Regions from separate parts of the Homo sapiens genome. Here regions 2 and 3 are each linked to region 1. Evidence: fine-mapped expression QTL. A gene starts in region 1. Each other region holds a variant in brackets. All regions are shown on one strand. Distances are between the middles of the regions. Region 1 holds the start of GAPDH (glyceraldehyde-3-phosphate dehydrogenase). Region 2 overlaps CD27-AS1 (CD27 antisense RNA 1). Region 3 has its middle 19 kb from the start of CD27.

Region 1 (8,177 bases):
TGAGCCTTTACTAGCTGGATCTCCCAGTTCCTCACAAAGCCCTTCCTATCTGCAGAACTGAGCGGCAGCAGCGAGACCTGGCCTACTGTGTGTCACAGCTGCCCCTCACAGAGCGAGGCCTCCGTAAGATGCTTGACAATTTTGACTGTTTTGGAGACAAACTGTCAGATGAGTCCATCTTCAGTGCTTTTTTGTCAGTTGTAGGCAAGCTGCGACGTGGGGCCAAGCCTGAGGGCAAGGTGAGCAGCACAGGACACTTCAATGCCTGTTGGGTTCTGGGCTGGCTAAGACATCTGCCGGCCCTGGGCAGCATACGGCTCTTGCAGTCACCTTCCCGTCCTCCTTATCCCCAGCTGGGTTGCAACCAAATTGCCAGAGTGACCTAAGACCAGATCTTTGTCTCCAGTTCTTTTTTTATTACTCCAAAAACACAACCAAAGCAGCATCTCATCCAATTCTTGTTTGTTTGTTTTTAATAGTTTTTATTTTTCAGAGCAGTTTTAGGTTCAAAGCAAAATTGAGCAGAAAGTACAGGGAGTTCCCTTCTACCCCTTGCCCCTACACATCACAGCCTTCCCCACCTTCAACATCCTGCACCAGGGTGGCACATTTGTTACAGCTGAACCTACACTTACACATCATCTCCTAAAGTCATGGTTTACCTTGGAGTTCACTGCACGTAATGACATGTACCCACCATTGCAGTATCATACAGAAGAGTTTCACTGCCTTACAAATCCCCTGCACTCCACCTATTTATCCCTCTCTCCCCACAACCCCTGATCTTTTTACTGTTGCCATCACTTTGTCTTTTCCAGAATGTATCATTGGAATGATCCGGTATGGAGCCTTCTCACCTTGGCTTCTTAGTAATGTGCGTTTAAGGCCTCCATGTCTTCCATGGCCTTGTTTCTTTTTAATCAGAAGTAACTGTTTTCAGGCCTGCTCTGAATCTCCTTTTCTCCCTCCAGGCTATAATAGATGAATTTGAGCAGAAGCTTCGGGCCTGTCATACCAGAGGTTTGGATGGAATCAAGGAGCTTGAGATTGGCCAAGCAGGTAGCCAGAGAGCGCCATCAGCCAAGAAACCATCCACTGGTACGTAAGGCAGCCTGTGCGGGCGAGACCAGACTGGGCCCTCCCCTCCTGCAGTGATTTGTTTCTTCTTCTTTTTTAAATCACGTTTTCCTGCCTTTTCTAGGTTCTAGGTACCAGCCTCTGGCTTCTACAGCCTCAGACAATGACTTTGTCACACCAGAGCCCCGCCGTACTACCCGTCGGCATCCAAACACCCAGCAGCGAGCTTCCAAAAAGAAACCCAAAGTTGTCTTCTCAAGTGATGAGTCCAGTGAGGAAGGTATGATGCTCCCGCCTGTTCCCGGCCGAGAAGGCACACAGCTAGGGTGCAGAGGGCTGGTTTCCATAGGACCTGCTGCGGGGGCCTGAGTGTAGATGCTCTGCCCCACTGCCGCAGAAGGGCCTCTCCTGTACAGCTTGGATTTTATTTCTTCTGTGCGGTGTGGGATTGTCTCACTTGTTCTCTGATATCTATTTTTTCACCATCTTTGTGACTCAGCTTTTTCTTATTCCTTTAATTCTTTGCATAGATCTTTCAGCAGAGATGACAGAAGACGAGACACCCAAGAAAACAACTCCCATTCTCAGAGCATCGGCTCGCAGGCACAGATCCTAGGAAGTCTGTTCCTGTCCTCCCTGTGCAGGGTATCCTGTAGGGTGACCTGGAATTCGAATTCTGTTTCCCTTGTAAAATATTTGTCTGTCTCTTTTTTTTAAAAAAAAAAAAGGCCGGGCACTGTGGCTCACGCCTGTAATCCCAGCACTTTGCGATACCAAGGCGGGTGGATAACCTGAGGTAGGGAGTTCGAGACCAGCCTGACCAACATGGAGAAACCCCATCTCTACTAAAAATAAAAAATTAGCCGGGCGTATTGGCGTGCGCCTGTAATCCCAGCTACTCAAGAGGCTGAGGCAGGAGAATCGCCTGAACCCAGAGGCGGAGGTTGTAGTGAGCCGAAATCACACCATTGCACTCCAGCTTGGGCAACAATAGCGAACCTCCATCTCAAATTAAAAAAAAAATGCCTACACGCTCTTTAAAATGCAAGGCTTTCTCTTAAATTAGCCTAACTGAACTGCGTTGAGCTGCTTCAACTTTGGAATATATGTTTGCCAATCTCCTTGTTTTCTAATGAATAAATGTTTTTATATACTTTTAGACATTTTTTCCTAAGCTTGTCTTTGTTTCATCTTTCACATTAGCCCAGTTTCATGCAGCAGAGAGAGGGTTATCAGTGCAGAGAGAGATGAGTGAGCCCAGAGTCCTAGGGCCTGTCCCGGGATGGCAGATGAGCTTCCTGCCCCGTCACTGCCACCTTTCCCCTCTCAACCTCTGGACCCTGCACAGTGACCAGACAGCCTCTCTGGGGAGAATTATGCAGTGCCTAGGCTCCAGATCAGTGCTTCTGAACCGGGGGCAATTTTGTCTGCCAGAGGACATCTGACAACACCTGGGGCCTGTTTTGTTGTCATAGCCTATAGGGGAAGAATGCTACCAGCATTTGTGGGAAGAGGCCAGGGATGTGGCTCAACATCCTGCAGTGCACAGGATGGCCCCTCAACAAAGAATCACACGGCCCACAATGTCAATAGCGTCACAGTTGAGAAAACCTGCTCTAGACCAAGGGTTGCTTTCTGCCGTGTGCCTCACCCCACCCCCACTCGTGTTCCCTAATCCCATCTCCAAAGGTTGGCAGCAGACCGGCCCAGGCTCGTGGAAGTTCAGATCATGATCCCCTCCAGCTCTGCAGGAGACAAGACCTGTCTCCCAGCATTCCTCATTGTTCCCGGGTCTGCAGAGGGCGTGAGCTATGCTGCAGGCGGGCTGCCCCCTGAAGCCTGCGCACCCCTCTCCAGCTCCTCAAGTCTTCTCTGCTGAGTCACCTTCGAACCGGAGGCTGTGAGCTGGCTGTCGTGACCACACTGGTGCCTCTGCTGTCATGACAACAGCACACTACGTCAGTAGTGCTCCCTGGGCACTGAGCTCCCTCTTTGCGGGGAGAAGACAGTAATGAAAAATGACAAGCATGAGGCAGAGGGGAAGATCACGCTTGGGTGGTGCAGGAGCATGGAGGTGCTCTTAATGCTCTCAATGAGAAAGGGTTAACGGTCCTGGTTGCAGGAATAGCTGAGTCAGAGGTGGGGCTTCCTCCACTCCCCCACCCCACCCCTTTCACCATTAGGGACCTTCTTGCCTTGCTCTTGCTACTCTGCTCTGGGTGGTCATTGTGAAAAGCCCGCACCAACCATGCCAGTGGCAGCCAGACGAGGACACAGCCTGGCTCTGGGTCCCAGCAGGAAAGGCAATCCCAGAAAGGCAGGGTCAGGGACTGGAGTCCTGTGGGTGCTTTTTAAGCAAAGATTATCACCAGGCAGGCTAAACTTAGCAACCGGCTTTTAGCTAGAAGGGCAGGGGGCTGGTGTCAGGTTATGCTGGGCCAGCAAAGAGGCCCGGGATCCCCCTCCCATGCACCTGCTGATGGGCCAAGGCCACCCCACCCCACCCCCTTCCTTACAAGTGTTCAGCACCCTCCCATCCCACACTCACAAACCTGGCCCTCTGCCCTCCTACCAGAAGAATGGATCCCCTGTGGGAGGGGGCAGGGGACCTGTTCCCACCGTGTGCCCAAGACCTCTTTTCCCACTTTTTCCCTCTTCTTGACTCACCCTGCCCTCAATATCCCCCGGCGCAGCCAGTGAAAGGGAGTCCCTGGCTCCTGGCTCGCCTGCACGTCCCAGGGCGGGGAGGGACTTCCGCCCTCACGTCCCGCTCTTCGCCCCAGGCTGGATGGAATGAAAGGCACACTGTCTCTCTCCCTAGGCAGCACAGCCCACAGGTTTCCAGGAGTGCCTTTGTGGGAGGCCTCTGGGCCCCCACCAGCCATCCTGTCCTCCGCCTGGGGCCCCAGCCCGGAGAGAGCCGCTGGTGCACACAGGGCCGGGATTGTCTGCCCTAATTATCAGGTCCAGGCTACAGGGCTGCAGGACATCGTGACCTTCCGTGCAGAAACCTCCCCCTCCCCCTCAAGCCGCCTCCCGAGCCTCCTTCCTCTCCAGGCCCCCAGTGCCCAGTGCCCAGTGCCCAGCCCAGGCCTCGGTCCCAGAGATGCCAGGAGCCAGGAGATGGGGAGGGGGAAGTGGGGGCTGGGAAGGAACCACGGGCCCCCGCCCGAGGCCCATGGGCCCCTCCTAGGCCTTTGCCTGAGCAGTCCGGTGTCACTACCGCAGAGCCTCGAGGAGAAGTTCCCCAACTTTCCCGCCTCTCAGCCTTTGAAAGAAAGAAAGGGGAGGGGGCAGGCCGCGTGCAGCCGCGAGCGGTGCTGGGCTCCGGCTCCAATTCCCCATCTCAGTCGTTCCCAAAGTCCTCCTGTTTCATCCAAGCGTGTAAGGGTCCCCGTCCTTGACTCCCTAGTGTCCTGCTGCCCACAGTCCAGTCCTGGGAACCAGCACCGATCACCTCCCATCGGGCCAATCTCAGTCCCTTCCCCCCTACGTCGGGGCCCACACGCTCGGTGCGTGCCCAGTTGAACCAGGCGGCTGCGGAAAAAAAAAAGCGGGGAGAAAGTAGGGCCCGGCTACTAGCGGTTTTACGGGCGCACGTAGCTCAGGCCTCAAGACCTTGGGCTGGGACTGGCTGAGCCTGGCGGGAGGCGGGGTCCGAGTCACCGCCTGCCGCCGCGCCCCCGGTTTCTATAAATTGAGCCCGCAGCCTCCCGCTTCGCTCTCTGCTCCTCCTGTTCGACAGTCAGCCGCATCTTCTTTTGCGTCGCCAGGTGAAGACGGGCGGAGAGAAACCCGGGAGGCTAGGGACGGCCTGAAGGCGGCAGGGGCGGGCGCAGGCCGGATGTGTTCGCGCCGCTGCGGGGTGGGCCCGGGCGGCCTCCGCATTGCAGGGGCGGGCGGAGGACGTGATGCGGCGCGGGCTGGGCATGGAGGCCTGGTGGGGGAGGGGAGGGGAGGCGTGTGTGTCGGCCGGGGCCACTAGGCGCTCACTGTTCTCTCCCTCCGCGCAGCCGAGCCACATCGCTCAGACACCATGGGGAAGGTGAAGGTCGGAGTCAACGGGTGAGTTCGCGGGTGGCTGGGGGGCCCTGGGCTGCGACCGCCCCCGAACCGCGTCTACGAGCCTTGCGGGCTCCGGGTCTTTGCAGTCGTATGGGGGCAGGGTAGCTGTTCCCCGCAAGGAGAGCTCAAGGTCAGCGCTCGGACCTGGCGGAGCCCCGCACCCAGGCTGTGGCGCCCTGTGCAGCTCCGCCCTTGCGGCGCCATCTGCCCGGAGCCTCCTTCCCCTAGTCCCCAGAAACAGGAGGTCCCTACTCCCGCCCGAGATCCCGACCCGGACCCCTAGGTGGGGGACGCTTTCTTTCCTTTCGCGCTCTGCGGGGTCACGTGTCGCAGAGGAGCCCCTCCCCCACGGCCTCCGGCACCGCAGGCCCCGGGATGCTAGTGCGCAGCGGGTGCATCCCTGTCCGGATGCTGCGCCTGCGGTAGAGCGGCCGCCATGTTGCAACCGGGAAGGAAATGAATGGGCAGCCGTTAGGAAAGCCTGCCGGTGACTAACCCTGCGCTCCTGCCTCGATGGGTGGAGTCGCGTGTGGCGGGGAAGTCAGGTGGAGCGAGGCTAGCTGGCCCGATTTCTCCTCCGGGTGATGCTTTTCCTAGATTATTCTCTGGTAAATCAAAGAAGTGGGTTTATGGAGGTCCTCTTGTGTCCCCTCCCCGCAGAGGTGTGGTGGCTGTGGCATGGTGCCAAGCCGGGAGAAGCTGAGTCATGGGTAGTTGGAAAAGGACATTTCCACCGCAAAATGGCCCCTCTGGTGGTGGCCCCTTCCTGCAGCGCCGGCTCACCTCACGGCCCCGCCCTTCCCCTGCCAGCCTAGCGTTGACCCGACCCCAAAGGCCAGGCTGTAAATGTCACCGGGAGGATTGGGTGTCTGGGCGCCTCGGGGAACCTGCCCTTCTCCCCATTCCGTCTTCCGGAAACCAGATCTCCCACCGCACCCTGGTCTGAGGTTAAATATAGCTGCTGACCTTTCTGTAGCTGGGGGCCTGGGCTGGGGCTCTCTCCCATCCCTTCTCCCCACACACATGCACTTACCTGTGCTCCCACTCCTGATTTCTGGAAAAGAGCTAGGAAGGACAGGCAACTTGGCAAATCAAAGCCCTGGGACTAGGGGGTTAAAATACAGCTTCCCCTCTTCCCACCCGCCCCAGTCTCTGTCCCTTTTGTAGGAGGGACTTAGAGAAGGGGTGGGCTTGCCCTGTCCAGTTAATTTCTGACCTTTACTCCTGCCCTTTGAGTTTGATGATGCTGAGTGTACAAGCGTTTTCTCCCTAAAGGGTGCAGCTGAGCTAGGCAGCAGCAAGCATTCCTGGGGTGGCATAGTGGGGTGGTGAATACCATGTACAAAGCTTGTGCCCAGACTGTGGGTGGCAGTGCCCCACATGGCCGCTTCTCCTGGAAGGGCTTCGTATGACTGGGGGTGTTGGGCAGCCCTGGAGCCTTCAGTTGCAGCCATGCCTTAAGCCAGGCCAGCCTGGCAGGGAAGCTCAAGGGAGATAAAATTCAACCTCTTGGGCCCTCCTGGGGGTAAGGAGATGCTGCATTCGCCCTCTTAATGGGGAGGTGGCCTAGGGCTGCTCACATATTCTGGAGGAGCCTCCCCTCCTCATGCCTTCTTGCCTCTTGTCTCTTAGATTTGGTCGTATTGGGCGCCTGGTCACCAGGGCTGCTTTTAACTCTGGTAAAGTGGATATTGTTGCCATCAATGACCCCTTCATTGACCTCAACTACATGGTGAGTGCTACATGGTGAGCCCCAAAGCTGGTGTGGGAGGAGCCACCTGGCTGATGGGCAGCCCCTTCATACCCTCACGTATTCCCCCAGGTTTACATGTTCCAATATGATTCCACCCATGGCAAATTCCATGGCACCGTCAAGGCTGAGAACGGGAAGCTTGTCATCAATGGAAATCCCATCACCATCTTCCAGGAGTGAGTGGAAGACAGAATGGAAGAAATGTGCTTTGGGGAGGCAACTAGGATGGTGTGGCTCCCTTGGGTATATGGTAACCTTGTGTCCCTCAATATGGTCCTGTCCCCATCTCCCCCCCACCCCCATAGGCGAGATCCCTCCAAAATCAAGTGGGGCGATGCTGGCGCTGAGTACGTCGTGGAGTCCACTGGCGTCTTCACCACCATGGAGAAGGCTGGGGTGAGTGCAGGAGGGCCCGCGGGAGGGGAAGCTGACTCAGCCCTGCAAAGGCAGGACCCGGGTTCATAACTGTCTGCTTCTCTGCTGTAGGCTCATTTGCAGGGGGGAGCCAAAAGGGTCATCATCTCTGCCCCCTCTGCTGATGCCCCCATGTTCGTCATGGGTGTGAACCATGAGAAGTATGACAACAGCCTCAAGATCATCAGGTGAGGAAGGCAGGGCCCGTGGAGAAGCGGCCAGCCTGGCACCCTATGGACACGCTCCCCTGACTTGCGCCCCGCTCCCTCTTTCTTTGCAGCAATGCCTCCTGCACCACCAACTGCTTAGCACCCCTGGCCAAGGTCATCCATGACAACTTTGGTATCGTGGAAGGACTCATGGTATGAGAGCTGGGGAATGGGACTGAGGCTCCCACCTTTCTCATCCAAGACTGGCTCCTCCCTGCCGGGGCTGCGTGCAACCCTGGGGTTGGGGGTTCTGGGGACTGGCTTTCCCATAATTTCCTTTCAAGGTGGGGAGGGAGGTAGAGGGGTGATGTGGGGAGTACGCTGCAGGGCCTCACTCCTTTTGCAGACCACAGTCCATGCCATCACTGCCACCCAGAAGACTGTGGATGGCCCCTCCGGGAAACTGTGGCGTGATGGCCGCGGGGCTCTCCAGAACATCATCCCTGCCTCTACTGGCGCTGCCAAGGCTGTGGGCAAGGTCATCCCTGAGCTGAACGGGAAGCTCACTGGCATGGCCTTCCGTGTCCCCACTGCCAACGTGTCAGTGGTGGACCTGACCTGCCGTCTAGAAAAACCTGCCAAATATGATGACATCAAGAAGGTGGTGAAGCAGGCGTCGGAGGGCCCCCTCAAGGGCATCCTGGGCTACACTGAGCACC
Region 2 (8,177 bases), 97 kb before region 1:
CAGAGACTCTGTCAAAAAACAAAAACAAAAACAAAAAACAAAAAACACCCACAACAACACACATAACTTTTTTGTCTAGGAAAGTTCTGGAAGAATACTCAATAATCTGAAAACAGTGCCTACACTAAGGAGGTAGGGAGAGGACCAGGGATTGGGGGAGGAGATTGATCAAAGGGAACCTGAGTCTTCTCTATAATTTTCCATTTTTTTTCATTTTCACCTCCAATTTTTAAAATATAATTTGTACTTTTTATTGTGAACTAAGATATGTAAAATAGTACATAAAAATAACACATTGAAAACCCACGTTCAGATCAGAAGATTAGTAGAACCTTCGAAGCGCCCTGATCACACCTTCCCTCCTCACCGGGGGAAGCAGCTCTGGCTTGTGTCTATCACTTCCTCACTTTCCTTTCTAGTTCTACCATCTGTGTGCACCCTGAACAGCAAACTGCTTCATTTTGCCTGTTTTTGAACTTTATAAATGGAATCGTATGTACTTTTCTATGCCTTGCTTCTGTGTGTTTGTGCACTATCACTTAACATGTTTTTCTATCTATTTATTTATTTATATTGTGGTAAAATATACATAAAATTTACCATTTAAACTATTTTTAAATGTATAATTCAGGGGGCATGAAGTACATTCACGATGTACAATATTATATTTTTGACATTCATGCAAATTAATCTACATGGCTACATGCAGGTGGTTCATATTCATTCCTCTAAAGCATTCCATTGGGTGAATATACAACAATTTATTATCCAACTACCGTTCTCTCCTTCCTTCCTCCCTCCTTCCCTCCCTTCTTTTCCTCCTTTCTTTCTTTCTCTTTCTTTCTTTCTTCCTTTCTTTCTTTCTTTCTCTTTCTTTTTCCTTCCTTCCTTCCTTCCTTCCTCCCTTCCTCCCTTCTCCTTTCTTTTCTTCCTTTCTTTTGCAGTGGCGCGATCTCGGCTCATTGCAACCTCCGCCTCTCAGGTTCAAGCTATTCTTATGCCTCAGCCTCCAGAGTAGCTGGGACTACAGGCATGTGCCACCACGCCCGGCTAATTTTTGTATTTTTAGTAGAGATGGGGGTTTGCCGTGTAGCCCAAGCTGGTCTCAAACTCCTGGGCTCAAGCCATCTGCCCGCCTCCATCTCTCAAAGTGCTGGGATTACAGGTGTGAGACACCACAGCAGCTTGCTTGCTTGCTTGCTTTTTCTTTTGGAATTACAAACAGTAGTGCTTGAATATTTTTGCATATGTCTCCTGGGGCACAGGTACAAGCACTCTTAGTGCATTTACCTACTGATGAAAATGATGGATTTTGCTGGTTTAATTTTTTATAAGGAGGTGATATGAATATTGCTTTTATAATTAAATTTCAATTTTAAAAAAGAAGAGAAAGCAGTTGGGATGGGCTCATAGAGTGAAAGGGCAGGGAACGGTCTATGAGACCAGAAGAAGACAGGCAGGAAGGGCGGCTGAGCCATGCCTGCAGGCTGAGCATGGAAGGTACTGTGAGTACACAGTCAGATCGGCACAGGAAATGAGCACCTTTGAGGCGTCCACTCTGTAGGGGCTCGTCAACAGTAGACTGGGGTTCAGGAGACCTGGGTTCTCTCCCAGCTCTGCCACACAGGGAAAGTCATTTCACCTCTGCACCCCACGGTTCTGATAGCTGTAGAGTGAGAGGGTAAAGCCGAAGGTTGGAATCATTTTCCAGCCCTGCTGGCTTGAAATCCTAAGCTGGCTGGAGCAGTAAGATGGGGGCTCCCCATAGGCCCACAGGACCTTCTACCTAGAAGCCAGGAGGAGGGGACAGGAGCCCAGATAGGAAAGAACTCTGTCTCTCCAAGACCCAAAAAATGACTAAAAGTAATGACTGGGCCTCACCCCAGTAAGTCAGTAGTGGTGGTGCGGTGGTTAACAGCCAGCTCTCGGAGTGGGAAGCCCTTGATCTATGGCGTTTGCTGATGTATGTGGTTGTAAGTATTCCTACTATGGCCAGCTGGCCAATTTCAAGCTACCAACGAGTAACCTCACAAAATTCCTGAAAATGTAAGGATCGGGCTTTGGCTAGGCAGTACTAGCAGGCTCCAGCACGGCCCTAGGAAGGAAGCTGCCCTAAGAGCTCAGGCTCAGACACCGCACCACGGACTAGCAGGGGAAACAAAGGTCTTAGGTCCCTCTCAGGGCTCACAGTCATGAGGCTCAGAAACAGCTGGGGAAAGTGGGGCGTGCCTCCCTCCCCGCCACAGGGAGGATCACCAGACTGGCTCCATGAGCCATTTCCCTCATCTGGTGAGCAAGGGAAGTCACTCAGAAGAGCAAGAATGGCCCAGCCACCCAGCACGGTGGCTCACACCTGTAATCCCAGCATTTTAGGAGGCAAAGGTGGGCAGATCACTTGAGCTCAAGAGTTCGAGACCAGCCTGGGGAACATGGTGAAACTCCATCTCTACAAAAAATACAAAAATTAGCTGGGCTTGCAGGGCACGGTGGCTCACGCTTGTAATCCCAGCACTTTGGGAGGCCAAGGCTGGCGGATCACCTGACATCGGGAGTTTGAGACCAGCCTGAACAACATGGAGAAACCCTGTCTCTACTAAAAATACAAAATTAGCTGGGCGTGGTGGCGCATGCCTGTAATCCTAGCTACTCTGGAGGCTGAGGCGGGAGAATCGCTTGAACCCAGGAGGGAGAGGTTGCAGTGAGCAGAGATCGCGCCATTGCACTCCAGCCTAGGCAGCAAGAGCGGAACTCCATCTCAAAAAAAATAAATTAATTAATTATCTGGGCTTGGTGGCGCATGCCTATAGTCACAGATATTTTGGGGGGCTGAAGCAGGAGGATTGCTTGAGTTCAGAAGGTCGAGGCTACAGTGAGCCGAGATGGTGCCACTGCACTCCAGCCTGGGTGACAGAGCAAGACCCTGTTTCAAAAAAAAAAAAAAAAAGCGAGTAGAAAATGCCAGGGGCAGTTGGGCACAGTGGCTTACGCCTCTAATCCTAGCACTTTGGGAGGCCAAGGCGGGTGGATCACCTGAGGTCAGGAGTTCAGACCAGCCTGGTCAACATGGTGAAACCCCGTCTCTACTAAGAATACAAAAATTAGCCAGGAGTGGTAGCGCATGCCTGTGATCCCAGCTACTTGGGAGGCTGAGACAGGAGAATTGCTTGAACCTGGGAGGTGGAGGTTGCAGTGAGCCAAGATCTTGCCACTGCACTCCAGCCTCGGTGACAGAGTGAGACTCCATCTCAAAAAAAGAAAGAAAAAAAATGCCAGGGGCCCAGGAGCCTACTGTGAGAGGAAACGTCCCGTCGCCTTGTGAAATCATGATTCTGCGTGATGAAGAACCGAGTATGAATAATACATACAGAGCAGACATATCGCCTATGCACAGCTTGTTCAATTTAGTGAGTCGTTCTGTCTCTTTCACACTCCTTTGGTTTCGTTCCCAGGTTAACTAGCTGTTCCCTCAACCCCATTTCTTGGGACTTGCAGCCTCAAATACCAAGGAAGAGAGAGGAGGAATGAATATTTATTGAGTACCCAAACAAGACAAGACCAGACATTTCATTTCTATTGTTACCCTTAATTGTCCCAACATGCTGCAAAGTGCACGACACTATCCTCAAGCAGATGAGGACTCAGTCAAGAGGTTGTGGGACATGCTGGACATGATGCGGGTAGTAGCCGGCAGAGAGGCATTTGGACCACCAACCTGTCTGGTTGTGAAAGTCAAGCTCTCTCCACCTATCCCAGGATCCTCCTGTCTCAGTGGGTTTGGGCCCTGGAACCACCCTTCAGTTCCAGGTCAAGACTGCTCCCTTCATAGCGACATCTTTCCCTCACTGTTTCTCCCCTTGCCTGGTATCTGAGAAATTCCTTTTATAGGTCTTGCCCTTCCCT[G/A]GCTACATAGACTGAGAGTCAGAAAACCTCAGTAGTCAGCACTCAAACCTTACACCTAACAATTTACATAATATCTGATTTCAGAAATTAGCTTTACCTCAGATCAAAATTAATCCTATAAATCACAGATCACGTAAAATCACAAGTGTGACAAGTCCCAAAAAAGAAAGTGTGACCAGGCTCACGCCTTGTAATCCCAGCACTTCGGGAGGCAAAGGTGGGAGGATTGCTTGAGCCCAGGAATTTAAGGCCAGCCTGGGCTACATAGCAAGACTTTGTCTCTACAAAAAGATAACAAATAAAAAAAAAAATTAGCCAGGTGTGGTCCCAGCTACTCGAGAGGCTGAGGCAAGAGGATTGCTTGAGCCCAGGAGATTGAGGCTGTATTGAGCTGTGTTGCCACTGCACTCCAACCTAGGCAACAGAGGGAGACCCTGTCTCAAACAAACAAACAAACAAAAAAAGAGGCTGGGCATGGTGGCTCACGCCTATAATCCCAGCACTTTGGGAGGCCGAGGCAGGCGGATCACGAGGTCAGGAGATTGAGACCATCCTGATGAACACGGTGAAACCCTGTCTCTACTAAAAATACAAAAATATTAGCCGGGCGTGGTGGCGGGCGCCTGTAGTCCCATCTACTTGGGAGGCTGAGGCGAGAGAATGGCCTGAACCCAGGAGGCGGAGCTTGCAGTGAGCCGAGATCGCGCCACTGCACTCCAGCCTGGGTGACAGAGCGAGACTCCGTCTCAAAAAAAAAACAACAACAACAACAAAAACATAACTATAGGTCTGTGCTCGGCCAGGTATGGGGGTAAAATTTATATTACCCACGTGGTTGGGAAACCTCCTTTATCCCCAAGAAAAGAACATGAAAACTGGTCTCAAGCCAGTGACATCCCTGGGGCGTCTGACAAAAGCAACTGCAAAAACACTGAAGGGACATGTACTCAACCCAACCACCAAGGTGGCCCACAGAAAAAGCCTGTTGAATATGCACTTTCTTTCCCTCTCTCTCTCTCTTTAATGGAGATGGGGTCACACTCCGTCACCGGCACTGGAGTACAGTGGGGTCTCACTGTGTTGCCCAGGCTGGTCTCAAACTCCTGGCCTCAAGCCATCCTCCTGCCTCAGCCTCCCCAAGTGCTGAGATTATGGTGTGAGCCACTGTGATGGGCTTGAAGATGCACTTTTGATTCAAAATTAGAAAACACACCTGAAACAGTCTGACCTAGAGAAACTTTTTCATCTAAGTCAGTCATAAAAATCAAATATTTGTGCTTAGACTCAGATCAATCTATATAAAGTGTTGAGGAAAGTTTTTTAATAACAAAACACATTAAATCATATTGCTCTTACTAAATATATTACTGTTAATGTTTTATTATATTGTGGAAAATTTTGTTACCTATTAATATTTTAATGAGAGCAACTAGATCTTTTATGTTGCAAATAAGTAAATGTGATATCTTTAAAAATTGTTTTTCCTATCCTTATCTCATTGTTTTTATTTTACTTTTATTATTTTGTTGTTGTTGCCCACACTGGTCTCAAACTCCTGAGCTCATCGATCCTCCCACCTCAGCTTCCCAAAGTGCTGGGATTACAGGCATGAGCCACTGCATCTAGCCAATCTCATCCTTTTTATGTTTCTGTATGTGACTATGTAATTCGATCTCATCCTTTAGAACTTTAGAATGTCTACATATACTTACATAGAACCTATTTGAGTATATAATATATGATTAATTTATTTAAAATATTGTGGGGAGTCGAGCCAGCGTCGCCGCAGTGATGTCGTTGGAGAGCAAGCAATTCCTGACGGAGCTGACCAGACTCTACCAGAAGTGCCGGACGTTGGGCAGCGTCTATATCACCTTGAAGAAGTATGATGGTCGAACCAAACCCATTCCAAAGAAAGGTTCTGTGGAGGGCTTTGAGCCCTCAGACAACAAGTGTCTGTTAAGAGCTATCGATGGGAAAAAGAAGATGAGCACTGTGGTGAACTCCAAGGAAGTGAGTAAGTTTCAGATGGCTTATTCAAACCTACTGAGAGCTAACATGGACGGGCTGAGAAGAGGGACAAAAAGAGCAAAAGGAAAAAGACCAAAGCAGCAGCACAGTAAAGGGCACAAATTCCCTGCTTTCACCAATTAACCACTGAATTGCTATTTTTTCCTTTGGTTTTTACTTTTGGCCACATAGCTAGGTTTCTGGTTCCCCCACAGTAGGTGTTTTCACATAAGATTAGGGTCCTCTTGGAAAGAATAGTTGCCATGTTTACAGGGTAGTTGTGGTAAGAATCTAGTTTATTTTACATGTGACTAATTGGTCTGTGCTGCATGGTTATATACTCCTGGATTATAGATTAGAAGTCTCCGAAGTCACCTCTGTGAAAAGCAAGCTATCATTAAACATGTCTGTTTATCAATCAATCAATAAATAAAATATTGTTTATTTGGGGATACATGCTGAAAATCATTTTATTGATGGGGTACAAAATAAAAAAAAAAAGCAGAGACTACTGAATTAGAAATATACATTTTTTCAGGCACAGATGGAACATTTACAACCACATACTAGGCCATAGAGCAAATCTCAAACAAATGCCAGAGGATTCATATGTATTCATTTTCTACAGCTGCTACAACAAATTACCACAAACTTAGTGGTTGAAAACAACCCAAATGTATTATGTTACAGCTCTACAGGTCAGAAGTCTAAAACAGGCCTCACCAGGCTACAATCAGTGATGGCAGGTACAGCTGCCCCTGGAGGCTGAAGGGTCAAATCCATCTCCTTGCCCCTTCCAGCTTCTAGAAGCCGCCCACATACTGAGGCTCATGGCCTTCTTCTTCCAACTTCAAAGTCAGCAACATCTTGATCCTTCTCATGCAGCTGCCTCTCTGGCGCTGTCTCCTCTGCCTCTTTGCCACTTACAAGGATGCTTGTGATTACACTGGGTCTACCTGGATAATGCAGAATAATCACCCATTGCAAGGCCAACCTTGATTCCATCTGCAGCCTTAACTCCCCTTTGCCATATTAACATGCAGTTCAGGGGCGCAGATGTCCTCGGGGGACCAACGTGCTGCCTGCCATGCTACACAGACAGAGTGCTCGGGCCACAATAAATTTAAAATTAAAATAATAAACAACAAAAAGTTAAGCCCCACAGATCTGGAAAATTTGTAATGCATTTATAAATGAAATATAGGTAAAAATAAATAATAACGGGAAAAGCAAATCAACAATAATGAAAAAAACAATATAGCAAAGCTGATGAGATGTAGCTAAAGTAGATCTTCAAGGGAAGTTTATAGCCTTAAATGCATATATTAGAAAATAAGAAATTTCTAAATTAATTAAGCATCCAATACATTAGAAAAAGAATGGCAAAGTATGCCGGGTGCAGTGGCTCACATCTGTAATCCCAGCACTTTGAGAGGCCAAGGTAGGTGGATCACTTGAGCTCAAGAGTTCGAGACAAGCCTGACCAACATGGTGAAACCACGTCTCTACTAACAATACAAAAATTAGCCAGGTGTGGTGGCGCACACCTGTAATCCCAGCTACTAAGGAGGCTGAGGCAGGAGAATCACTTGACCTCAGGAGGAGGAGGTTGCAGTGAGCCAAGATCATGCCACTGCACTCCAGCCTGGGCAACAGAGCAAGACAGCCTAAAAAAAATAATAATAATAACAGTGAAACAGCTACACACAAGCAAATCAAGTTCTACCAGGCTTTCAAGGAACAGATTATCCCTATTGTATATAATCTGTATATAAAAAAATAAAAAATAGCACTTAAAAAACAAGTGGTCAAAGCAAGGAAAATAGAATCGTGTCACAGAAACCAAGGGAAGTAATAATTCTCATGTAGGTGGAGAGCTGCCAGATCCCACATATCTCTGTTAAACTTTGCTTCCTGGATGAGGCACTCCCTACCCCTTAAATCCCCCTATTAGGGGTATAGACACCTATATTGCACCCCAACTCTCTCCTTCATAGCAATAATGACCATTACTAACTAATTTTAATTTTGTTTTGTTTTTTGGGTTTTGTGAGATGAGGTCTTGCTCTATCTCCCAGGCTTGAGTGCACTGGCATGATCATGGCTCACTGCAACCTCGACCCCCTGGGCTCAAGTGATCCTCCCACCTCAGCCTTCCGAGTGGCTGGGACCACAGGCACGTGCCACCACACCCAGTTAATTTATTTTTATTATGTGTAGAGACGGGGTGTCACTCTGTTGCCCAGGCTGGTCTTAAACTCCTAGGC
Region 3 (8,177 bases), 110 kb before region 1:
CAGACTGGTCTTGAACTCCTGACCTCAGGTAATCCACTCACCTTGGCCTCCCAAAGTGCTGGGAATACAGGCGTGAGCCACCGCACCCAGCCACAGGAGCTTTTATGTTCAGATCATAACCAGGCGTGGTGGCTCACTCATGTAACCCTAGAACTTTGGGAGGCTGAAGTGGGAAGATTGCTTGAGGCCAGGGGAGTTGGAACCAGCATGGGCAACATAGCAAGACTCTGTCCCTATTTTAATTTTTTAATTTTATTTATTTATTTATTTATTTATTTTGAGACAGATTCTTGCTCTGTTGCCCATGCTGGAGTGCAATGCCATGATCTCAGCTCACTGCAACCTCTGCCTCCCGGGTTTAAGCGATTCTCCTGCCTCAGCCTGCCAAGTAGCTGGGATTACAGGCACGTGCCAACGCATCCAGCTAATTTTTGTATTTTTAGTAGAGACAGGTTTCACCATGTTGACCAGGATGGTCTCGATCTCCTGACCTCGTGATCCGCATGCCTCGGCCTCCCAAAGTGCTGGGATTACAGGTGTGAGCCACCGCACCCGGCCCCTATTTTAATTTTAAAAAGAAAACAAGATCAGGTCATACTTTGGTGCATTCTTTTTTTCTTTCTTTCTTTTTTTTTTTATTTGAGATGGAGTCTCGCTCTATCACCCAAGCTGGAGTGCAGTGCTGCAATCTCGGCTCACTGCAACCTCTGCCTTCCGGGTTCAAGCGATTCTCCTGCCTCAGCCTCCCGAGTAGCTGGGACTATAGGCACTTGCCACCATGCCCAGCTAATTTTTGTATTTTTAGTAAAGATGGGGTTTCACCATGTTGGCTAGGATGGTCTCAATCTCTTGACCTCGTGATCCGCCAGCCTCAGCCTCCCAAAGTATTGGGATTACAGGCGTGAGCCACCACGCCCAGCCTTTGGTATATTCTTTTAGGTTATGTTAAAGATAGATTCTTCAAGTCACAGATAGGAGTACTTGGGATCACCCCTCTGCCCCCACCAGTGGCCCTCCCTTAGGGGGTTCCTCAAATTCTTTGAACTTGCTGAAACCCAGCCTGCTGTGCTGACACAAGAGAAGCCCTGGGAGGATACCCGACGCCTGGCACCTCTGCCCTTATGTCCCTTTTTTTTCTGTTAGAATCCCATTTTGTTTTCTTTTTATAGATGTAGGGAGTACAGTGCAGTTTTGTTACATGGATATATTGAGTAGTGGTGGAGTCTGGGCTTTTAGTATAACCACGATCCGAATAGTGTACATTGTACCCATTGGGAAATTTCTCATCCCTCACCCACCTCCCACCCTCCCACCTTTCCAAATCTCCAATGTCTACTATTGCACTCTCTGTGTCCATGTGCACACATTATTTAGCTCCCACTTATAAATGAGAACATGCAGTATTTGACTCTGTCTCTGAATTATTTCACTTAAGGTAATGGCCTCTAAGGGTTCCATCCACATTGCTGCAAAAGATGTAATTTCATTCTTTTTAATGGCTGAGTAGTATTCCATGGTATAAATATGCCACATTTTCTTTATACAATCATCCATTGGTGGGCCCCTAGGTTGATTCCATATCCCTGCTCTTGTAAACAGTGCTGCGATAAACGTATCTTCAAAATAACAGCCTTGAAGCCCTAATTGGGCTCCTGAGAGGGCCACGTGAGACAGTGTGAAGAGCGAAATCACTATTCTGCCACAAGAGGGCACCCAAAGCCCAGACAGATGGGACGACGCGCTTCCTGCCTCCATTGGAATCAAGCGCATGACTGGATAGCAGAGGCTCCTTGGGCAGGGAGCCACAGCTTGAAGGTCCCAGTTATGCAACTGGCCCCAAGGCCCTTCTACCCCTTCCCCAGGGGACTTCACCAGCTCCTTTTAGGACAGAGTTTGTGTATGGTTCTTGCTGGCTTCAGTCCCTCCCGTAGAGGTGACCCTGAGTAGCTGGGATTACAGGTGCCAGCATATGCACCTGTAATCCCTCCTCCCTGGGGAAAATCTCTGCCCTGGATGGGTAAGATCCTGACCCTGCGTGAACGTGGCATGCGCTTCTGTTCTCCACTCCCTGGAGTTCCTCCTGAGGCCGTGCAGGATCCTGTCCAGTGCTCACAGGCATGAGCATGACTTCAGGGTTGTGAGCAGAGCCCTGCAGAGGTATGCATATGGCTATGGAGTGGTGACCTACTCGGACAGAAAGAATAAGGAAAGGATCCAGTAGCCAGGCCAAAAGGAAGAGGCACCAAGAAGGGCTGCAGCTTGAGGGTGGAGATTCCAGACTTCCAGATACTCTAGTGGGGGTACGATTTGGACCCAGGAGGCAGGTTGCAAATCTAAACCCATCAGAAGCATATGGACTCTTCTTTTGATTAGTTGTCAATGCGAAAAAATTTTTTTAATTTTTAAAAAGGGTATAGACTTAGACAAACTCAGAACTATTAAATTTATAATGTAGTTTGAAACATTTAAGGGAACATTGTACTAAACTGAGAACTATATAGATGTACGCAGGCCCAAGTCTGGCTTCCTAGCCTCAAATCTGGCAAATAAATAAGGTTAGCCTTCCTGAGACGGTAATCACAGATCACGGTCATACACTGCCCACTTGAGTAAAACCGTTCCCCTTGGGGACGAGTGTTCTTTTAACCCCAAGAAGGTTTGGAATCAATCTTTATGATGGCTTTTACCCTCTCAACTTAGCTAAGACGAAACCATATTTCTTGGAAATTAATCCCTGTATGGTTCTGGGTGAGGGTTGGCCACAAGAGAAATGTAAGATTTGAGAGGTAGGAAAACAGAATAGGAGCGGCCGTCGTGCTCTGAGGCCAGCATGGGGTGACAGTCATCTGCTGGCTCACCTTGTCTGCACGGATGGCAGCCAGACTGGCAGCTCTTCCAGCTCCCGTCAGATCGCCTCCTTCAGCTTCTCTAATTCTTGGCCACACAAGTGCAACTCCGTGGCAAGGAGTGCTAGGTCCTTCTGCAGACACCCATACCATCGGGGTGGGTGGTGGTGAGGCACAGACGCAGGCTCCGGATGGCCTTTGCCCTGCCCCCACTTCACATCCAGTGCTTCTCCCAACTGACCCATAGTGACCTCAGGTCCACCACAGATACGGAGGCCTCCAAAGACTCCTTCCCCAGCTGCCATGATTGATTAAGGTCTAATCTCTAAAATAAGTTCCTTATTCCATAACACTCATAGTGGTTTTGACTCTCTGGTCAAACCTTAACTGATAAAAATCAAAAGTGATGAAGCAAATCAAACTCATGCTAAGTTTCAAACAGGTTTTAACCACTGCATGCATTTGGTACTTAAAGTTTTTGTAATGCTTAAAAGAATCTGACATATATTAATACTTAAATAGGAAATGCATGAAACTACAGAAAAAAAAATTAAAAAAATTTTAAACAATTTGACATAGAAGTATTATAGATTAGCCTCATTATTATATTAATATTTAAAATGTATAATTGCCGGGCATGGTGGCTCATGCCTGTAATCCTAGCACTTTGGAAGACTGAGGCGGGCAGATCGCTTTGAGCCCAGGAGTTCAAGACCAGCCTGGACAACCTGGTGAAACCCTGTCCCTAGTAAAAATGCAAAAACTAGCTGGGCTTCATGGCGTGCGCCTGTAGTTCCAGCTACTCGGGAGGCTGAGGTGGGAGGACTGCTTGAGGCGAGGAGTTCGAGGCTACAGTGAGCCGTGATCACACCACTACACTCTAGCCTGGGCAACAGAGCCAGACCCTGTCTCACAAAACAAAA[G/C]AAACAAACAAACCACACAAACTTGCAACATCCTGCTTCTTGCAGCTCTCCCCATCCGGCCCACCCCATTCCTTTGGCGTGAAAATATGATGGGGTCTCCTCAGCCCTAGAAGCACCCACACCGTTCAACCTAAAGCTCCCACTGACTAGCTGAGCTCTCATAAAGGTGAGATTTGTCGCATACGCCTCCCATACACCTCTTCCTAGTAGATTTCTTCACTCTTTCCCTTCCATTCTGAGCACGGCCCCACTTAAGGAACTCTCAGCTCTCATGTTGCCCTATCCCAGTCAAGAAGGAAGTTGCTGGTGATCAAGTCATACTCCAGTGAACACTGACTGGCACCTCTTCTGCATCAAGTCCTAGCAGGGCATTCACCCGAGTTACCAAACATGGCTGCTCACACCCGCCCTCCGAGGCCAGCATCTGCATCCCCATGTGACAGTGGAAACAAACCCACGGAGCCTGAGCAACTGGGCAGCCAGCAAGTGACTGAGCAGAGAGACGGCCTTGGACGCAGGCCAAGCAGCACAGATTTACTCGAATCATCCTCCGCTCCTTCAGATTTTCACCAGCTGATTGATCCTTGGACTTCCCCCCCAGGCTTCTCTGACATCACCAGCCACCAGGACCCTGCCTATGCCTGTGGCCTGCAACATTCCTCTATGCACATCAAAGTAGGGAGCATCAGGCCGGGTGCGGTGGCTCACACCTGTAATCCTAGCACAATGAAAGACCGAGGTGGGCAGATAACTTGAGACCAGGAGTTCAAGACCAGCCTGGCCAACACGGCGAAACCCCATCTCTACTAAAAATACAAAACAATTAAGCAGGGATGATGGTGTGTGCCTGGGGTCCCAGCTACTTGGGAGGCTGAGGCATGAGAATTGTTTGAACCCGAACCCAAGGCTGAGGCAGAAGTTGCAGTGAGCCAAGATCGCGCCACTGCACTCCAGCCTGGGTGAGAGAACTCCAGCCTGGGTGACAGAGGGAGGCTCCATCTCCCAAAAAACAAAACAAAACAAACAAACAAAAAAAACAAGTAGACAGCATCAATTCTGGCCAACTTATGGGTAAAAGAGAAGGCTGCCACAGCCCTTGCCCTTTGGGAGTGCCTGTCCCTTCAGTAGCTGCCCCAAAAATCCTGCAGAAGAGAAGGGTCAGAGGAAGCACCTGTAATAAAGGGTGAGGCCCCACCAACCCACTCTCTTCCTCTCCTCTCCTAGCCGAGGGAGCCATCAGAGGCAAAGGGAGTGTGGGAAAGATTAGTCAGACATGTTTCCCTTTGTGTCACAGAGTCAAACTCTCCATCCGTGACTTCAGAAAAGTCACAAGAGAGCCCCAGCAACGGCCCACAGGGTGTCATAGCAACACGCCTACACCTCAAGGTGCCACCTTCCAACTCTGGAGAAAACAACTGCCTTCTTCAAATGTCAACTGCTACATGGGCAAAGAGCAACTTGAAAATGAAATTCGGGGCTGGGCGCAGTGGCTCACACCTGTAATCATTTTGAGAGTCCAAGGCGGGTGGATCACTTGAGCCCAGGAGTTCCAGACCAGCCTGGGCAACATGGCAAAACCACATGTCTTCAAAAAAATACAAAAAGTAGACAGGCATGATGGCATGCACCTGTAGTCCCAGCTACTCGGGAGGCTGAAGTGGGAGGATCACTTGAACCCGGGAAGTGCAGGCTGCAGTGAGCCGAGGTTGCACCACTGCACTCCCCACTCAGTCTGGGTGACAGAGCGAGACACTGTCTAAAAAAAAAAAAAGAAGAAGAAAAAAAGAAAGAAAGAAAATGAAATTGAAATTAGGGGCCGGGCACAGTGGCTCATGCTTGTAATCCTAGCACTTTGGGAGGCCGAGGCAGGCGGGATCACCTGAGGTCAGGAGTTTGAGACCAGCCTAACCATGATGGTAAAACCCAGTCTCTACTAAAAACACAAAATTAGCTGGGCATGTGTGGCGCATGCCTGTAATCCCAGCTATTCAGGAGGCTGAGGCAGGAGAATCACTTGAACCCAGGAGGTGGAGATTGCAATGAGCCGAGACTGCGCCATTGCACTCCAGCCTGGGCAACAAGAGCGAAACTCCATCTCAAAAAAAAAAAAAAATGAAATTAGGAAAAACAACTCAATTTACAATAGCATCAAAAAGAATAAATACTTAGGCATACATTGGCCAGGTGCGGTGGCTCACATCTGTAATTCCCACATTTTGGGAGGCCAAGGCAGGCGGATCACCTGAGGTCAAGAGTTCGAGACCAGACTGGCCGACATGATAAAACCCTGTCTCTACTAAAAATACAAAAAATTAGCCAGGCGTGGTGGCAGGCACCTATAATCCCAGCTACTCGGGAGGCTGAGGCTGCAGAATCGCTTGAACCTGGGAAGCAGAGGCTGCAGTGAGCTGAGATTGGGCCGCTGCACTCCAGCCTGGACAACAGAGTGAGACTCTGTCTCGAGAAAAAAAAAAAAAAACTTGGTATACATTTAACAAAGAAAGTGCAAGACTCATACACTGAAAACTAGAAAACATTGTTGAAAGACATTAAAGAAATCCTAAATAAATGGAAAGACATCTGTGTTCATGGACTGAAGGTAACAATATTTCCCAATTTCATCTACAGACTCTATGCAATCCCCATCGAAATTCTAACTGCCTTCTTTTTTGCATAAATGGACAAGCTGATCTTAAAATTCACATGCAAATGCAAGGGACACAGAGTAGCCAAAATAATTTTGAAAAAGAAGAACGAAGTTGAAGTCCCAATTTCGAAACTTACTATAAAGCTACAGTAATCAAAACCATGGTATTGACCTAAAGACAGACATACAGATCAATGGAATACAATTTAGAGTCCAGAAATCAACCCATACATCTATTGTCAATTAATTTCAGCAAGGGTGCCAAGACCATTCTGTGTGAAAAGAATAGTCTTTTCAAGAAGCAGTGCTAGGACAACTGCATATCCACAAGTAAAAGAATGAAGTTGGACCCCTACCTAAAACCAGATAAAAAATTTAACTCAAAATAAATCAAAGAACTAAATTTAAGAGTTAAAACTATAAAACTCTTAGAGGGAAATATAAGTGAAAATCTGTATGAGTTTGGATTCGGCAACAGTTTCTCAAATATGATGCCAAAAGCACAGGCAACAAAAGAAACAGTAGATAAACTGGACTTCATCAAAATGTGAAACTTTTTTTTTTTTTTTTGAGACGGAGTCTCGCTCTGTCTCCCAGGCTGGAGTGCAGTGGCGTGATCTCTGCTCACTGCAAGCTCCGCCTCCTGGGTTCACGCCATTCTCCTGCCTCAGCCTCCCGAGTAGCTGGGACTACAGGCGCCCGCCACCACGCCCGGCTAATTTTTTGTATTTTTAAGAGACGGGGTTTCAGCATATTGGCCAGGCTGGTCTCCATCTCCTGACTTCGTGATCCGCCCGCCTTGGCCTCCCAAAGTGCTGGGATTACAGGCATGAGCCACCATGCCCGGCCCAAAATGTGAAATTTTTATGCATCAAAGGGCACTATTAAGAAGGTAAAAAGACAACCCACAGTATGGGATAAATTTTTTTTTTTTTTTTTCTGAGACGGAGTCTCGCTCTATCGCCCAGGCTGGAGTTCAGTTGTGCGATCTCGGCTCACTGCAAACTCTGCCTCCCGGGTTCCACACCATGCTCCTGCCTCAGCCTCCCGAGTAGCTGGGACTACAGGCGCCCGCCACAACGCCTGGCTAAATTTTTTTTTTTTTTTTTTTTAATTTTTAGTAGAGACGGGGTTTCACTGTGTTAGCCAGGATGGTCTCGATCTCCTGACCTCGTGATCTGCCCGCCTCGGCCTCCCAAAGTGCTGGAATTACAGGTGTGAGCCCCCGCCCCGGGCCAGAGAAAATATTTTCAAATCACTTATCTAGTAAGGTCTAGAATTCATAATATCAAAAAGAAAAAAAAAAAAACTCTTGCAACTCAGCAACAAAAGACACAAATAATTTAATTTAAACACGGGCAAAGGACTTGAACAGACATTTCTCCAAAGAAAATATACAAATGGCGATGAGCACATAAGAAGATTCTCAACATCATTAGTCTTAGTGAAATACAAATCAAAACCACAATAAGATACCACTTCACACCAACTAGGGTAGTTATAACTTTTTCAAAAATAGAAATGTATCTGTGATATTTGCACATCTTTGTGAATATAGTAAAAGCACTGAATTGCACATTTTTAAATGATGAAAATGATTCATTTTATCTCAGTAAAAGTCTAGCCACTGAATTGTACATTTTTAAATTATTAAAATGATTCATTTCATCTCAGTAAAAGTCAACAGGCACCAGGGATCCCTTCAGTTTGGGCTGGAGGTCAGTGCAGTTTGGGGGGTCATCAAATGCTGAAGCAGAAGGA

Evidence for each region. PIP is the estimated chance that this variant, and not a neighbour inherited with it, causes the effect.
Region 2: its variant is fine-mapped to the expression of GAPDH in whole blood (INTERVAL, PIP above 0.99).
Region 3: its variant is fine-mapped to the expression of GAPDH in whole blood (TOPMed, PIP above 0.99).

What each region holds. Positions count from the first base shown.
Region 1 is chr12:6,529,720-6,537,896 of GRCh38, forward strand. GAPDH (glyceraldehyde-3-phosphate dehydrogenase) reads left to right here and starts at 4,798. Exons shown (of 9, transcript NM_002046.7): 1 at 4,798-4,850; 2 at 5,091-5,142; 3 at 6,775-6,874; 4 at 6,965-7,071; 5 at 7,201-7,291; 6 at 7,382-7,497; 7 at 7,590-7,671; 8 at 7,865-8,177. The coding sequence starts at 5,114. It overlaps NCAPD2 (non-SMC condensin I complex subunit D2), which reads left to right. Exons shown (of 32, transcript NM_014865.4): 29 at 56-239; 30 at 972-1,098; 31 at 1,202-1,357; 32 at 1,608-2,236. The coding sequence ends at 1,693. It overlaps GAPDH-DT (GAPDH divergent transcript), which reads right to left and starts at 4,688. Exons shown (of 2, transcript XR_002957397.2): 1 at 3,745-4,688; 2 at 2,197-3,424. RefSeq lists enhancers at 2,940-3,069, 3,030-3,803, 3,804-4,577, 4,578-5,351, 6,900-7,673 and silencers at 3,980-4,229, 4,950-5,089.
Region 2 is chr12:6,432,811-6,440,987 of GRCh38, forward strand. CD27-AS1 (CD27 antisense RNA 1) reads right to left here. Exons shown (of 6, transcript NR_015382.2): 6 at 6,191-6,866. It also overlaps the pseudogene SRP14P1. Among named protein-coding and RNA genes, the nearest start is that of CD27, 8.1 kb to the right of the region's middle. RefSeq lists an enhancer at 1,598-2,098. The variant G/A (reference allele first, on the strand shown) is at 3,901.
Region 3 is chr12:6,422,014-6,430,190 of GRCh38, forward strand. No RefSeq gene overlaps it. Among named protein-coding and RNA genes, the nearest start is that of CD27, 19 kb to the right of the region's middle. RefSeq lists enhancers at 1,454-1,503, 4,815-4,924, 4,965-5,204. The variant G/C (reference allele first, on the strand shown) is at 3,770.